Homo sapiens: one gene and its partner. The protein of the gene in region 2 purifies or fractionates together with the protein of the main gene of each other region. This does not show direct contact. Each region holds a gene or a part of one and is shown on either strand. Other genes may lie near its edges. The genes, in order: ITGB7 and GZMK.

Region 1 (3,821 bases), on a different chromosome or scaffold from region 2:
ACCACCACCATGCCTGGATAATTTTTGTATTTTTAGTAGATATGGGGTTTCACCATGTTGGTATGGCTGGTTTTGAACTCCTGATCTCAAGTGATCCACCCGCCTCGGCCTCCCAAAGTGCTGGGATTACAGTCGTGAGCCACTGTGCCCAGACCCATTTCATTGCTTTTTATGGCCAAATAACGTTCTGCTGTATGGATATACCACCTTTTCTTTATCCATTCATCAGTTGATGGACATCTGGGTTCTTTCTACCTTTTAGCTATTGTGAGTAGTGCTGCTGTGAACATTTCTGTACCAGTTTTTGTTTGAACACCTGTTTTCAATTCTTCTGAGTATATACCTAAGAGTGAAATTGCCAGGTTATAGGATAATCCTATGCTCAATTTATTGAGGAACCAAATTGTTTTCCACAGAGATTGTACCACTTTACATTCCTTACACGGTAATGTATAAAGATCCCAATTTCTCCATGTTCTCATCAACACTCATTGTTTTTCATTTTTTGATAGTCATTCTAGTAGAAGTGAAGTGGTATCTCATTGTGGTTTTTTTCTTCTTCTTTTCTTTTCTTTCTTTCTTTTTTTTTTTTTTTTTTTTTTTTGAGACAGGGTCTCGCTCTGTCGCCTAGGCTGGAGTGCAGTGGCCCGATCTTGGCTCACTGAAGCCTCTGCCTCCCGGGTTCAAGCGATTCTTGTGCCTCAGTTTCCCGAGTAGCTGGAGCTACAGGCATGTACCACCATGCCCAGTTAAGTTTTGTATTTTTAGCAAAGATGGGGTTTCACCATGTTGCCCAGGCCGGTCTTGAACTCCTGACCTCAAGTGATCCACCCACCTCAGCCTCCCAAAGTGCTAGGATTACAGGTGTGAGCCACCATACCCAGATCATTGTGGGTTTCATTTGCATTTTCCTAATGATTAATAGTGTTGAGCATCTTTTCATTTGCTGGGTGGCTATTTGTCTATCTTCTTTGAAGAAATGTCTTTTTAAGTCTTTTGCTCATTTTGAAAGTTGGGTTGTCTTTTTGTTGTTGAATTGTAAGAGTTCGTTATATATTAAGGATACTCATCTGATATATAATCTGCAAATATTTTCTCCCATTCTGTGGGTTGTCTTCGCTCTCTTGACATTGTCTTTGATGCACAAAACTTTAAATTTTTGATGAAGTCCAATGTATCTGTTTTTCCTTTTGTTGTTTGTGCTTTTGGTATTACAGCTAAGAATCCATTACCAAGTCCAAGATTATGAAGATTTACCTATATACTTTCTTCTAAGAATTTATAGTTTTAGTAGTTATATTTAGGGCTTTGATCTCTTTTCAGTTAACCTTTGTATATGGTGTGAGGTGGGGAGGGGGTCCAACTTCATTCTTTTGCATGTTGAAAGCACCTTTTATTTTTTGAGAAAAAGTGGTGGCGTGTGCCACTACACCCGGCTAATTTTTGTATTTTTAGTAGAGACGGGGTTTCACTATGTTAGCCAGGCTGGTCTTGAACTCCTGACCTTGTGATCTGCCTGTCTCGGCCTCCCAAAGTGTTGGGATTACAGGCATGAGCCACGGTACCTGGCCTTTTTTTAAAGATGGAGTTTCAGCTGGGCATGTAATCCCAGCTCATGCCTGTAATCCCAGCACTTTGGGAGCCTGAGGCAGGTGGATCACTTGAGGTCAGGAGTTTGAGACCAGCCCGGCCAATGTGGTCAAACCCTCTCTCTACTAAAAATACAAAAACTAGTCGGGTGTGGTGGCGCATGCCTGTAGTCCCAGATACTTGGGCGCCTGAGGCCAGAGAATTGCTTGAATCTGGGAGGCAGAGGTTGCAGTGAGCTGAGATGGCGCGACTGCACTCCAGCCTGAGCAAGACTCCATCTCAAAAAAACAAAACAAAACAAAAAAGACAGAGTTTCACTCTGTTGTCCAGGCTGCAGGGCAGTGGCACAATTGCAGCTCACTGCAACCTCTGCCTCCTGGGATCATGTGATTCTCCTGCCTCAGCCTCCTGAGTAGCTGGGATTACAGGCGCCCACCACCACACCCAGCTAGTTTTTGTATTTTTAGTAGAGACGGGGTTTCACCATGTTGTCCAGGCTGGTCTCGAACTCCTGACCTCAAGTGATCCACCTGCCTCGGCCTCCCAAAGTGCTGGGATTACAGGCATGAGCCACTGTGCCCAGCCCCAGCCCCATTTTTTGAAGACAGTTTTTCTCATTGAATGGTTTGGCACCCTTGTTGGAAATCAATTGGCCACAGAAGCATAGTTTATTTCTGGACTCTTTCAATTCTATTCCACTGATGTATAATATATGTGTATCCTTATGCCAGTACCACACTGTCTTCTTTTTTTCTTTTTAAGAGACAGGGTTTCACTCTGTTGCCCAGGGCAAAGTACAGTGACACGATCATAGCTCACTGCAGCCTCAAACTACTGGGTTCAAGCTGTCTTCTCACCAGCACTGGGATTACACGCATGAGCCACTGCGACCAGCCAATGCTGTCTTGATCACTGTAGCTTTGCAGTATCTTTTTTACAAGATTATTTTGGCTATTTGGGGTTCCGAGCAATTCCATATAAATTTTAGGATCAGCTTTTCCATTTCTGCAAAAAAAAAAGGGCCAATGGGATTTAACTTTTTGACTTATGAAGCGTGGTAAATGAATTACCTGCTCATTTTAAAAAATTAATATGTTTTTTTAAAATCAGGAATTTGCTTGGCTTTCCTGAAGGTCACTCAAGGTATTACCCTGTCTCCAGGCTCTTTCTTCAATCTAGATTATCTTTGTGCAAAGTACAGAAAGTAGAAAATTTTTTTGCCAACACTGGCCTTTCTCCCCTTATCCCAGACCTGCAGAGAGTTCTTGTGGTCTAATCTTCATTCCTCTTGCTACCATGTCAACCAAGCAGAACTATTCTTCCTTGACTCTTTCACACACTCCCTCATCTGCTCCAGCTTTCTTTTCTTTAATTCCCAGTCACTGACCCTCTTCTCTTATTTAGAATCCAAGATTGTAAAAGCCGCCAAGTATGTCAGACTATTTATTCAACTTCTCCACTTTGCAGATGTGGAAACTAAAGCCCAGAGAGAAAGTCTGACTTGCCCCACAGCCAGTGAGTGACTGCAGCAGCACCAGAATCTGGTCTGTTTCCTGTTTGGCTCTTCTACCACTACGGCTTGGGATCTCGGTAAATAGAACTGGGTGCAGACTTTAGTGCTTTCAGGCTCAGTCCCCAAATCCTTTAGTAGGCCATTTTGCCCACCTTGGCCACATGAAGTCTGCACACAGGAAGGACAGATCTTCTCTGAGGCCCCTATTTTTTTTTTTTTTAAGACAGATTCTTGCTTTGTCACCCAGGCTGGTGTGCAGTGGTGTGATCTCGGCTCACTACAACCTCCGCCTCCCTGGTTCAAGCAATTCTCTTGCCTCAGCTTCCTGAGTAACTGGGATTACAGGTGCACGCCACCATGCCTGACTAATTTTTGTATTTTTAGTAGAGATGGGGTTTCGCCATGTTGACTAGGCTGGTTTCGAATTCCTGAGCTCAGGTGATCCACCCACCTTGGCTTCCTAAAGTGCTGAGATAACAGGCATGAGCCACCACGTCCGGAGGCCCCTACCTTTGCGTGATACCTGCTCCTTCCCATTATTTTGAAGAAACTGCTGAATCCACAGGGGAAGTGAAACTATGAGGGGAGATAAAGTGTTGGGGCAGAGTTTTGAGAGTGATAACCACAAGCTAAGTTTAGAGGACTGAGAGTTTGAGAGTCCTCCCTGAGGACCCACATGTCCCCCTTTATATCCTATTACAGGGCATGGTGGCTTTGC
Region 2 (3,821 bases):
GTTTCTTTCAAGACAGTATATGGAATAACATGGGCCCTTATAAAATATATCATAATCACCTCAAACATGGGGAGGGTGCTAGCAAAATGCATTTTGTAGGTGATTTAACTAATTGAGCCATCCTGTATAAAAATGTTGACAAAATAGAAGGAAGACAATGCTACTACCTACCTTAACCAGCATGATATCATTTGATTGAGGATCTGATGTAACTCTTGAGAATGGTATAAATTTTTTGATCTCCAGTGTTTGTTTGGAGGCCTCATTCTTTGAGAGAGAGTGTGCGCCTAAAACCACAGTGGGAGACTGGCCTTTGGTAAACCTAAAAAAAGCAAAGACAATGAAAGCAGCAGAATGATTTCCAAATCCCCCAGTGGGGAGTGGTGATGGTCGAGAGGGTTGTATACACAGAGAAACAAGGGCTATCTCCAAGGTAACCTGCCTAAGATTAGGTGGAGTGACAAAGGTCTTAGTGGAGCCCAGCATGAATTGATATTAAGGGCCAAATGACTTGCCCTTAATCCCACCCTAAACCAATTCCCTGGCATTGCAAAAGAATATCAGAACTTGTATCCAACTGGGGGAAGAAAAAGGAGTGAAATCCTAATTGACTTAGATCAAGTTTAAAACAAAATTATGTTCATTTATGTAAAAATAAAGCAAATTATATTCCTTGAGTTTGTAGTTTGAGATTTACACCAACTACCATTAAAATTTGTTTATTGTGGTAAAGTATACATAATGGTATAAGAATGGTAAAATTTACCATTTTAACCATTCTTTAATGTACAGTTTGGTGGTATGAAGGACATGTATATTGTTGTTCATCCACCACTATCATCTCCAGAACCCCAGAACTTTTTTTATCTTCCCAACATTAAGTGTTTTAATAATTAAGGTAGCCAGGTGTGGTGGCTCATGCCTGTAATCCCAGCCACTTGGGAGACTGAGGTGGGAGGATCATTTGAGGCCAGGAGTTTGAGAGAAACCTGGGCAATACAGTGAGACCCCCATCTCTAAAAAAACATTAAGGGGCACACTGGTGCATGCTGGGCATGGTGGTGCATGCCTACAGTCCCAGCTGTTTGAGAGGCTGAAGCAGGAGGGATTGCTTGAGTCCTGGAGCTGGAGGCTGAAGTGTCACAGCCTGGGTGACAGAACAAGGCCCCATCTCTTAAAAACAAACAAACAAACAAACAAACAAACAAACAAAAACCACAAAGATCCCCACCCTACACTTGCTCACCCACATGCCTAGACTTCATCTCAGGTCAATGTGGGGAAGTAAGGCCTATTACATGACAGTCAGATATGTCCATATGTCCTGTCCCCTCAATTAGAACAAAGATTTGGACAAGAAAGGAAAACTTTCCTCAAGGTAAGAAAACAGTGCTAATTTAAAATGAAGATACTTTAAGGTTAGTAGCCATTCCATCGGGGAGATTTAGAGGATACGAACTGGTGAGTGAGGTGAAGAAATAGGTTTGTTTTTTGGCTTTCTTTTTTAACGTTTTTTTTTTTGAGAAGGAGTCTTGCTCTGTTTCCCAGGCTGGAGTTCAGTGGCGCCATCTCGGCTCACAGCAACCTCCGCCTCCCAGGATCAAGCGATTCTCCTGCCTCAGCCTCCCGAGAGGCTGGGACTACAGGCTTGTGCCGCCACACCTGGCTAATTTTTGTATTTTTAGTAAAGACGGAATTTCATCATGTTGGCCAGGGTGGTCTCAATCTCCTGACCTCAGGTGATCTACTGGCCTCAGCCTCCCAAAGTGCTGGGATTACAGGCGTGAGTCTCTGTGCCTGGCAAGGTTTGCTTTTTAAATCTCTGGTCATACACAGTTCTAGTACCAGTGTTTCAACAGTGCCACAATTGATCTGATTTACTCTTTGTTGGATAAAATTACATTTACAGCAGTGATAAAGTAGAAATAATTTTTTGGAGATTTTGGCAGAACCGTAGAGCCATTTGTATACTACAGATACATTCCATTACAGTGTCTATCTTTATGAAGTCCACCTCAGATCTTTTAATTGTATTTGTTTGTTTACATGTAACTATTTCTTTGCTACTTGGAAAAGCTACCAAAGTAGATTGCAGTAAAAACACACATACTCATGCATATAGATTAATAAAGATTAATAAAAGTTACAAAGAGCACAGAAACATACAGAAAAAGGAAGACATGATTGTTTCAGATTTGAAAATGGCAAATGCCTGTGGTAGAGTGGGTTTGCTTATGGCAGAGCTGTGACTGCCTGGAATGACCACTTTTTGGTTTCTACCAAAAGAGTTTATTTTTATTTATTTTGGGAATTCCAGCTCTATTTGTTGAAAAGTTTGCCTATTGCAAAATCAGGACCGGGTGGAAATTTCTCATAGGATGTGGACTGGATTTCCTAGGATTGATTTGAATTCAAATTCAACATACCCACTAAACCCAAAACTTTGTAGGAGAAGGATGACATAAAAATCTTCAGGATGAATGCTCTAACAGAAAGGTGGGCACGTGCCTAAATGACTCACACAAAGAAGGCTATGAGGTACAAATGAGAGGTATGGAGGGTGGATTCTCACTAAGGGAGGGATGCTGAAAAAATGTCTGGGTTTCTTTCGTCTTTTACTAATTTACTCGGCTAGTTATTGCCTTTGAAATGTTTTGGTTATTTTTGTCTCCACTGGGACATGTTAAGACCAAAAACAACCCAAGCAGACCATTATTCCTTCTGACCTTTCAATTTCTAGATATCCTTCAACTGTAATCTGTGCTACTCAGGTCAAATTTTCTGCCCACAGGGTACCTGGAATTACTTGAGTTCTGGGATGCCACCTCCTTAGCTAAACTGAAGTCTGAATTCACACAAAGAGGAAGTAATAATGCCAGTGTTTTTCAGTTGCACAGCACAGGATTTCCCCAAATGCAGTCTTCAGACTTGCTTCAGAATCACCTGGAGGTGTTGGTTTAAAATGTGGTTTCCGGAGTCCCACCCTGAGCTTTCCTGGAAGAGATTCATATATGGAGCAGAACTACAGTGCGGCTTATAGTGGGTCTGCTGAAGACATCTGTAAACATTGTCTCCATTGAGCCTAACAATAACCTTTTTCAAGGCTGGTAAAGCTGACGGGCTGTGTATTCCTTACCAGTAAAAGATTGTTCTCTGACTGGTCCAAGGTGACACACCTCATAAATAGGGGAATCAGGACCCAAATTTGGCTTTTGGTGACTCCCAGTCCAGTGCTCTTTCCTCAATCCCTCTTTGAACCCCGTGCCAACCCCCTTCAAGCCTCTTCTTTTCTCTGCCAGCGCGCCTGGACACTCAACAGTGGTTCTGCTTAGACCCGCCCCTTGAGGTCTGGCAGCAAAGGCAGGGTCCCTATGTCTTGGAGATTTCTCTTGCCTAAGAGAGAGGGAGAAGAACTTGGCTGTCAGAGAGGGAGGTCTTCCCAGTCTTATCTCGTCAACATCAGATTAGTTCCTTGGTTATTACCATGGAAGGCACAGATAATTGTATAACAATACTCGATAACATCTATTAAGTTCTTTGTGTTCTGTGCTAAGCATTTTACAAAGCTTCCCTCATTTAAACCGCACAACAGCGTGGTGAGATAGGTATTATGACAATCCCCATTTTATAGATGAAGAAATTGAGGTTCAGGTAAACGAATAAACTTGAGGACCTTTGCCTCCAGGAGGCAAATTCGGGCAGGATTAAAGCTCAGTTGGCTTGAATCTAGAGCCTGAACATTGAACCATTTTGTTCCAGGAGCCTTGAGCATTTGAGATGGAGTGAGGCCATGTGGAAGGGGCTGTGGAAGGTTCCATCTA

The links.
Region 1: the proteins of GZMK (region 2) and ITGB7 purify together in Homo sapiens (affinity purification with mass spectrometry; one large-scale study listed by BioGRID and IntAct). This does not show direct contact.

What each region holds. Positions count from the first base shown.
Region 1 is NC_000012.12:53,200,431-53,204,251, reverse strand, and holds part of ITGB7 (integrin beta-7 isoform a precursor), read left to right. Parts: intron 1-3,057; 5' UTR 3,058-3,180; intron 3,181-3,798; exon of another isoform or gene 3,799-3,805; 5' UTR 3,806-3,808; coding exon 3,809-3,821. UniProt on the Homo sapiens protein: Integrin ITGA4/ITGB7 (alpha-4/beta-7) (Peyer patches-specific homing receptor LPAM-1) is an adhesion molecule that mediates lymphocyte migration and homing to gut-associated lymphoid tissue (GALT).
Region 2 is NC_000005.10:55,026,935-55,030,755, reverse strand, and holds part of GZMK (granzyme K precursor), read right to left. Parts: intron 323-3,821; coding exon 172-322; intron 1-171.